Linked DNA regions of Homo sapiens: regions 1 and 3 are each linked to region 2. Evidence: fine-mapped expression QTL. A gene starts in region 2. Each other region holds a variant in brackets. All regions are shown on one strand. Distances are from middle to middle. Region 1 overlaps NIPA2 (NIPA magnesium transporter 2). Region 2 holds the start of NIPA2 (NIPA magnesium transporter 2). Region 3 holds the start of CYFIP1 (cytoplasmic FMR1 interacting protein 1).

Region 1 (2,500 bases), 28 kb after region 2:
TGTATTTTATTAGTGGAATTTGAGGAAGGAAGAGTAAATTCATGTGACTTATCTGGGCCTCAGTTTCCTCATCCGAAAATGCAGGTGGTAGTATCCGTGATAACAGGGTAGTTGAGTGCGAATTGCTGAGAAAAATGCCTGGCCCACAGTGCTACACAGTTGTTGGCTATTATCATGCTGGATTTAATTCTCCGTATTCAACCAGAACCCCAGTAGTATCTTTCAAGTTCTCCAGTTGACTTGCTCGTTACTCCAGCAGTTGTCCACAAATTTTAAAAGTTTCCCCTTTTAGGGAAAACTTGATGAAGAACTCTTGTTTTTGTGTTTTTTGTTTTTTTTAGCATCTATAAATTGTTGAACATTCAAGGCCACCTCATGGTTTCTCCTCCCTAGTTTCTGTGTCTGTTCTGTTCCCACTGTCCCTCTTGCCTGGTGAGCTAGAGCACTTAAGTCGGCATAAAGTGCTGCTGCAAAAATGTTAGGGGTATAACAATTTGTGAATATGAAGCTCGCATTAATCTTCCAGTGTGTCCATCTAAGTAAATTTTTGTGGTTGCATTTCTGCTTGGGCTGCAAAATAAAGCTGATTTTTATTTCCAGGCCATACCTTTTCTCCCTATCAAGTTTATTATATTTTGTTTTGCATTCTGTGTTTAAGAACAACCAACCATTTGACTCATGTAACTTTTCTTTGCCTCCTCCAGGTTTTGTGGTCTTTGCAACCCTTGTGGTCATTGTGGCCTTGATATTAATCTTCGTGGTGGGTCCTCGCCATGGACAGACAAACATTCTTGTGTACATAACAATCTGCTCTGTAATCGGCGCGTTTTCAGTCTCCTGTGTGAAGGGCCTGGGCATTGCTATCAAGGAGCTGTTTGCAGGGAAGCCTGTGCTGCGGCATCCCCTGGCTTGGATTCTGCTGCTGAGCCTCATCGTCTGTGTGAGCACACAGATTAATTACCTAAATAGGGCCCTGGATATATTCAACACTTCCATTGTGACTCCAATATATTATGTATTCTTTACAACATCAGTTTTAACTTGTTCAGCTATTCTTTTTAAGGAGTGGCAAGATATGCCTGTTGACGATGTCATTGGTACTTTGAGTGGCTTCTTTACAATCATTGTGGGGATATTCTTGTTGCATGCCTTTAAAGACGTCAGCTTTAGTCTAGCAAGTCTGCCTGTGTCTTTTCGAAAAGACGAGAAAGCAATGAATGGCAATCTCTCTAATATGTATGAAGTTCTTAATAATAATGAAGAAAGCTTAACCTGTGGAATCGAACAACACACTGGTGAAAATGTCTCCCGAAGAAATGGAAATCTGACAGCTTTT[TAAGA/T]AAGGTGTAATTAAAGGTTAATCTGTGATTGTTATGAAGTGAATTTGAATATCATCAGAATGTGTCTGAAAAAACATTGTCCTCAAATAATGTTCTTTAAAGGCAATCTTTTTAAAGATTTCACTAATTTGGACCAAGAAATTACTTTTCTTGTATTTAAACAAACAATGGTAGCTCACTAAAATGACCTCAGCACATGACGATTTCTATTAACATTTTATTGTTGTAGAAGTATTTTACATTTTCATCCCTTCTCCAAAAGCCGAATGCACTAATGACAGTTTTAAGTCTATGAAAATGCTTTATTTTTTCATTGGTGATGAAAGTCTGAAATGTGCATTTGTCATCCCCACTCCATCAATCCCTGACCATGTAAGGCTTTTTTATTTTAAAAAAACAGAGTTATCCCAATACATTATCCTGTGATTTACCTTACCTACAAAAGTGGCTCCTGTTTGTTTGATGATGATTGGTTTTATTTTTGAAATATTTATTAAGGGAAAACTAAGTTACTGAATGAAGGAACCTCTTTCTTACAAAACAAAAAAAAGGGCAGAAATCACCCCAAGGAACGATTTCTCAGGTTGAGATGATCACCGTGAATCCGGCTTCCTCTGAGCATTCGATGGCCTTAGCACCTCATCAAGCCAGCACATCCTGCCTGCTGTTGCAGCCTGGCTGGGTTTATTCTTCAGTTACCCTAATCCCATGATGCCTGGAACCTTGATTACCGTTTTACATCAGCTCTTGTACTTTTCAGTATATTTTCATAATGAGTTATATTGTCATTTAGACTTTGAACAGCTCTGGGAAATAGAAGACTAGGGTTGTTTCTTAAATTTAGCTCATGTTATAATAAAAAGTTGAAATGAAGTTCTTATTCTAAAAGTCTGAATGCTTAGAACAAACTTAACATGTTTATAGAATATGGTCTCTTTGTACCAAGTACTTTGCTTAAGAGCTCCTTTGGGCCACTACATATTTTGGTTTCTAGAAAATGTTTGTTTATGAAGAAGTCGATGGAAAACTGCAAACATATGCAGAAAAGGTAGAATAATAAAAAAGGTCTAATGAACTCCATTCAGCTTTGAACCTATCCACTCATAACCATTGACTGGCCTTTAAAAAAAAGTATTGGCAGAATTAATTTCCACCTAGGT
Region 2 (2,846 bases):
GAGGCGGGCTTTCACCAAACGTCAACCTCACATCTATTCCGCGACCGGGTCAGTAAGGAAGGGCCCAGCGGTCGTCGAACTACCACAGCTATTTCGGCCCCGCCCCGTCCCGCCCCCAGCTTTGGACCCACCCTTTCCCCCGCTTCTTGCCCTCTTGGGAGCTCTGTTCCCCTTTGGCATCGCCCGGGGACACCAATTAAATGCAGCTTCACACTGTGACTGCCCCTGGGAACCCTCATTTTATTTTATTTATTTATTTATTTTTGAGAAGGAGTCTCGCTCTGTCGCCCAGGTGGAGTGCAGTGGCTGATCTCGGCTCACTGCAACCTCCGCCTCCCGAGTTCAAGCGATTCCCCTGCCTCAGCCTCTGGAGTAGCTGAGATTACTGGCGCGCACCAACACGTCCAGCTAATTTTTGTATTTTTAGTAGAGATGCGGTTTCCCCATGTTGGTCACGTTGGTCTCGAACTCCTGACCTCGTGATCTGCCCGCCTCGGCCTCCCAAAGTGCTGTGATTACAGGTGTGAGCCACCGCGCCCGGCCGGAACCCTCATTTATTCTATTTTTTTTTGAGACGGAGTCTCGCTCTGTCGCCCAGGCTGGAGTGCAGTGGCGGGATCTCCGATCACTGCAAGCTCCGCCTCCCGGGTTCGCGCCCTTCTCCTGCCTCAGTGTCCCGAGTAGCTGGGACTACAAGCACCCGCCACCACGCCCGGCTAATTTTTTGTATTTTTAGTAGGGGCGGGGTTTCACCGTGTTAGCCAGGATGGTCTCGATCTGCTGACCTCGGGATCCGCCCGCCTTGGTCTCCCAAAGTGCTGGGATTACAGGCGTGAGCCACAGCGCCGGGCCCGGAATCCTCGTTTTAAATAAGGGCCACGCCGGAGTTTGATTTTGAACTGATCGGCCAACGCCACCTGGCAGCATACTGTACTGCTTAACTACGCTTCCAGCTTCGTCCCTCGCCAGGTCCCGCCTGGATCCTGCGCCCCGCCCCCGTCCCCACACTCTACGCGCCCCGCCCTCCGCGCTCAGCCGACTGGGGCCTTGTAAAGGAACCGGAACCCGGCGGGAGAGAGCCCCGGGGGCGGGGTGTACGTGGTGCGGCACTGCGCGTGCGCGCGAGGCCTCTTGCGTCATTTAGCCGCGCCTAGGTTTTCCGGCGCCGGCCCTAGGTCCCGGCAGCGGTGGTGACGGCGGTGCCGGAGGTTGTCCTTGGCAGGTTTTCCTCGGCGCTTCTCCATGGAGGAGGCGGTGCGAACGGCTTCAGCCCCGAATGCTCGCATCTCCCACTGGACGGCGACGAAGGCGGTGGCCGTGCGAGCGCAGGACTGGGCGGCCTGTGTGGGGGTGTGAGCCGCGGTGCCCAAGGCTGCGCCGGCGAGGGGAAGCCGCGCGGCCGGCCGGCCGACTAGGGTGAGGTCGCCACTCCTTCCTTTCAGGCAAGCGCGAAGGGGCTGACTTGGTGGCGAGCCAGCCCGCCTTGTGTCGGAGAAGGGTTCTTCGGGCAACTTTCCTTTCCGGGTGTTCTGAAGCGGTTTTCCTGTAATCCTCAGTGAGGAAACCCACCGTGAATCGGATTGCCGTTCAGTCCCACGGAAGCCTGGCTCGTTGGCCATGTCGGGGACGCATGTTCATTAAGTTCATTAAAATAATTTCATTTGTCTTGGTGAGTTTTAGAAGGTGGCTTCAGCTGCTGCGGGGATCATAACTGACAGTTAAACAAGCCTTAGAAGTCTGCTGTGACGTTTTGAGCCTGACTGTTTTAATTTCCTTTTATAAAATCACGGAATCCTATTTCCCTCTCTATACAATTGCTCAAAACTGTGTGTTTAGTTTGGTGTTTGTGCCTCCTTAATTTCTTTTCTAGGTTGTTAGTTCATTTAATACAGGACTGCATGTTAAGTTCTGTTTCTAGAAATCCTGTGTATAGCCATGTGCCCGGTTAATACTTTTTTTAGTAAGAGGAAATATCAGAGTCGAGAGTTTCCATTCCAGTAAGCTGCCTGTCGAAGCAGTAGTTGTGCTCGATTGAGTAGGTTTTATGTTGATTGGTTGGCAAAATGAGTATGAAGGCTAGTAACCAAATTATAAAACGTACTTAGTAACTTTAAGTCTTTTGCCTACTTCTGTGTTTTCTTCTTTCTAGGCTGGAGCTACTCGGCCAGGGTTTAAGACTTTAAATGAGAATAAAGGGTGGTATTTACGAGGAAATGAGAGTGAATAAGTCATCTCTAACCTCTCCCAGCCTTTTTTTCATAAGAGAGACCATATTAAACTTACATGTAAGTTAAAATTGTAATTTATAACTAATATTGTTGCATAGTTAGGGTTGGAGATTTAGGTTCTGTAATATTTATAAGTACAGTACTGCTTTGAAAAATTATTAGCCAAGTGAGAGGTTGGAAAAAATTAAATCTAACATGTATTTAATTTTTCTGAGCCAAGGTCTTGCTCTGTCCCCAGGCTAGACGGTGCAATCTGGGCTCACTGCAACTTCCGCCTCCCGGGCTCAAGTGCTCCTCCCACCTCAGCCTCCCCAGCAGCTGGGACCACAGACGTGCGGCACCATGCCTGGCTAATTTTTGTATTTTTTTTAGAACCGGGGTTTCACCATGTTACACCGGCTGGTCTCCTAATTCTGGACTTAAGCGATCCAACCACCTTGGCCTCCAAAGTGCGGGGATTACAGGTGTGAGCCACCGAGCCGGGCCTAAGCTAACTTAGATAGCAGTGGAAACCAGGTAGTAAAGATTTCGTAGAAAACTAAGAGCTCTATATATAGTTTTTTTTTTTGTTTTTTTTTTTTTGAGATGGAATCTTGCTCTGTCACTCGGGCTGGAGTG
Region 3 (2,846 bases), 140 kb after region 2:
GCTAAGATCTTTAAGTAACCAAACATCATTAAGTGAAAAATGTATGACGATAATATATGCAATATGATCTCACTATGTTATTTAAAAAATTACTTATGCACAGAAAAGACTATTATACTACTTAGAAGTACCGAGGGAATTTCACTTTTAGTATACACGGTTCTATGCTGTTTAATGTTTTTAATGAACTATAGTTTTGTAATTTTTCTCATCACTTTATCATTTTAGTCTCTCTCTCAGGCTGTATCCGAGAGCCACACTTTTCAGACCCTTGTATCTTTACTCTTCAGGGACAAACCAGAGCATAGCTGAATCTCCAACGCCTTATGCTAAGCGAAACAAGCCAGACTCCAAGCCCACATGTGACATTCTGGAATGGGCAAAGCAGGAGGACTGAGGAACAGACAGGCGGCTGCAAGAGCGGGGAGGAGAGAGGCTGCCTTCCTGAGTATCCTGACTGCGGTGGAAGTCACTACAGTCCATGCACCTGCTACAGCTCACTGAACTGAACACCAAAAAGTGAATCTTACTAAAAGTTTAAAATAAATTTAAACACACACACAAACTTAGGGGGTACATTTTCTTTGAGCGCAGCACAGACACCTGTCTTAACGCAGGAAACGTCCTCCGCCACGACTCCAGGGCGCCTCGGTCGCAGTGAGGGCACCGGCACTATATCCCTACTGGCCCTACGAGTGCACACCTGCTACGGCCCGCGCCCACTCACAGCGTGACTCGTTCTTCCAGGCTCCGTGCCTGCAGATCTAGACATCACTTGGAAAACCGCTGGCCACCCGCAGGGAAAAGGCAGCATGCGTGGGGCCCCCGCGGGTCCCGGCCTGGCCGGGACTCTGCCGCCAAGCTGTCAAGCATAGCAATGTGCGCACTGCACCAGGCATCACCGCGGCTCCGACCACGCCTCATTCCGGAGTCCGACGGACGACTGCAAGAAACACCACCGCTCCCGGCGCAGCCACGGTGCCCTCCGCCGCCAGAAAACAAACGCTCCCGAGCCTCAGTCCCCAGCGGCGACCACGCGGCGCTGGGCTCAATCAGCAGCCGCTCCCTGACTGGACTTAATAGCGGAGCTGACACCGTCCAGACGCCCCTCTCAGCTTAAAACACGTTCCATCAACCCCGTTTCCCGATTATTCTTGCACCCTTCTTGTCACACCCACAATGTGCTGCAAATTAAGCTCACGCATTTCAGCCTTAAAATACACAATTCAGATGCTTGTGCGAAACAGTGCTGCCTCCGTAACGATCGCGCCTCCTTAACAAAGCCCAAAACTCCTCTCTCCAAGAATGCCCGGAATGGCTCCGCGGACCAGGCTCCCTCCGCTCCTCACAGGGGCACGAAACAAAAACGGGTTCAGATCTTGCTGCGCGACCTTAGTGCAACATTAACAATCTGCCTGCTCCTTACTTTCCAACAAAAACGTCAAACACTAAGGTATTCCTTCGCCACTGGAGCTGTGCCATGTGCCGGGGCGCGGAATCCGGGATCCGGGGGCGCGAGGCGGTGAACGCGGGGGCGGGGAGCTCGGGGCCGAGGCCGAAAGGCCGGGGGCGCAGGGACCGGGAAGCCAGTGCAGGGAGTGCGGGGAC[C/T]TGGAGCCCGGGAGGCGCGGGAGCCCGGGGCCGGGACCTGGGGGACGCGGGGACCAGGACGATCCCGGAGGCCGCGCCGCCGGGGAGGCCGCGCCGCCGGGGTTGGGGGGGAGGGGGGGGTCCGTCCCGGCCCCGCCGCCGCCCTGGCCGGCCCAGGTTCCGAGGGGGACCCGGACCCCGCGGAGGCCGCAGGGCAGGCGCGGGCGAGCGGGGTTCCTCACCTGCGTCCGCGGCGGCTTGGGGGTCCTGGGCGGGCCCTGGGAGTTTCCTTGGCCGAGTGAGTCACTCGGGCTGGCCGGGAATGCGCCAGGAAACACTCGGCCTCCTCCCCTTCCTCCCGGGGCGGGGGCTCTCCCGGCTCGGCCTCTTCCTCCCGGCGCTCCTCCCTCCCGGCCGCGGCCCCGGCCGCTCCCTCCTCCTGGCGGGGCATCCCCGGCCGGGCGGCCCCTTTCCCCACGCCAGCCGCCGAAGGTGTCCTCCCAGGCAGAGAGCCCCTGGCTACCTGCCGGCCTGGGTCACCGCAGCCTGCGCGGGACGGCGGGGTCGGAGCGGAGCGGGCGTGGGGTCCTCCTGCGGGTCCGTCCGGTTCGGAGCGCGAAGGAACGGGGTCCGCACCCTGTCCCGGGGCTCCACCGGGTCAGGGCGGGGGTTGGCCTGAGCTGCGGAAGGAGCTCAGGGGGACACCCAGGACGCCCGTGTGGCGCCGCCCCACTTGGCAGGAGGCGCTCACCTGCGCTCGTCGGGAGGGTTCCAGGCGCGGGTCCCAGCTGCAGGTCGGCGCGCAGAGCCCGCTGGGGACCCCCCCGGCCGGCCCCTGCGGCCCCATTGCCTGCGGGAACCAGGGACAAATCCGTGCGCAGACCTGCGGGAACGGCGGACGGAAGAAAACCTGATTTGAGCTCGTGCCAAAAAACAATCTTGAAAGGCCGGTGAAGAAACATACCTCACACGGAAACGCTGAGTGGAGTCAGCTGGTCACAGGCGTGTTTAGGAAAACTGCCCTAAACGCCCCGCTCAGCCGCAGCAACCTCACTCCCCATTCATCCGCGACCCCTGGTTCTTACGGAGAACAGTAAGGATGGGCATCAGATATTCTAGTCTGGTCTCTAGATTATGAAGGTTTGGTTACCCCCGCTTGTGCTCTGCGGTAAGGCAAAAAGCAGCAAATGAATCCTGACCAGCGGATTGAGACAATCTACCAGTTGACTCAATATTCGGATATCACTTTCTCACATTCC

The links.
Region 1: its variant is fine-mapped to the expression of NIPA2 in whole blood (INTERVAL, PIP above 0.99). The same link has a PIP of 0.9 or more in breast, esophagus mucosa, fibroblasts, subcutaneous fat, sun-exposed skin and thyroid.
Region 3: its variant is fine-mapped to the expression of NIPA2 in whole blood (GTEx, PIP 0.96).

What each region holds. Positions count from the first base shown.
Region 1 is chr15:22,865,509-22,868,008 of GRCh38, forward strand. It overlaps NIPA2 (NIPA magnesium transporter 2), which reads left to right. Exons shown (of 8, transcript NM_030922.7): 8 at 705-2,500. The coding sequence ends at 1,339. It overlaps CYFIP1 (cytoplasmic FMR1 interacting protein 1), which reads right to left. Exons shown (of 31, transcript NM_014608.6): 31 at 1,544-2,500. Among named protein-coding and RNA genes, the nearest start is that of NIPA2, 28 kb to the left of the region's middle. The variant TAAGA/T (reference allele first, on the strand shown) is at 1,337.
Region 2 is chr15:22,837,506-22,840,351 of GRCh38, forward strand. NIPA2 (NIPA magnesium transporter 2) reads left to right here and starts at 1,161. Exons shown (of 8, transcript NM_030922.7): 1 at 1,161-1,416; 2 at 2,150-2,285. RefSeq lists an enhancer at 1,058-1,287.
Region 3 is chr15:22,978,458-22,981,303 of GRCh38, forward strand. CYFIP1 (cytoplasmic FMR1 interacting protein 1) reads right to left here and starts at 1,911. Exons shown (of 31, transcript NM_014608.6): 1 at 1,830-1,911. RefSeq lists enhancers at 240-1,207, 1,208-2,176. The variant C/T (reference allele first, on the strand shown) is at 1,609.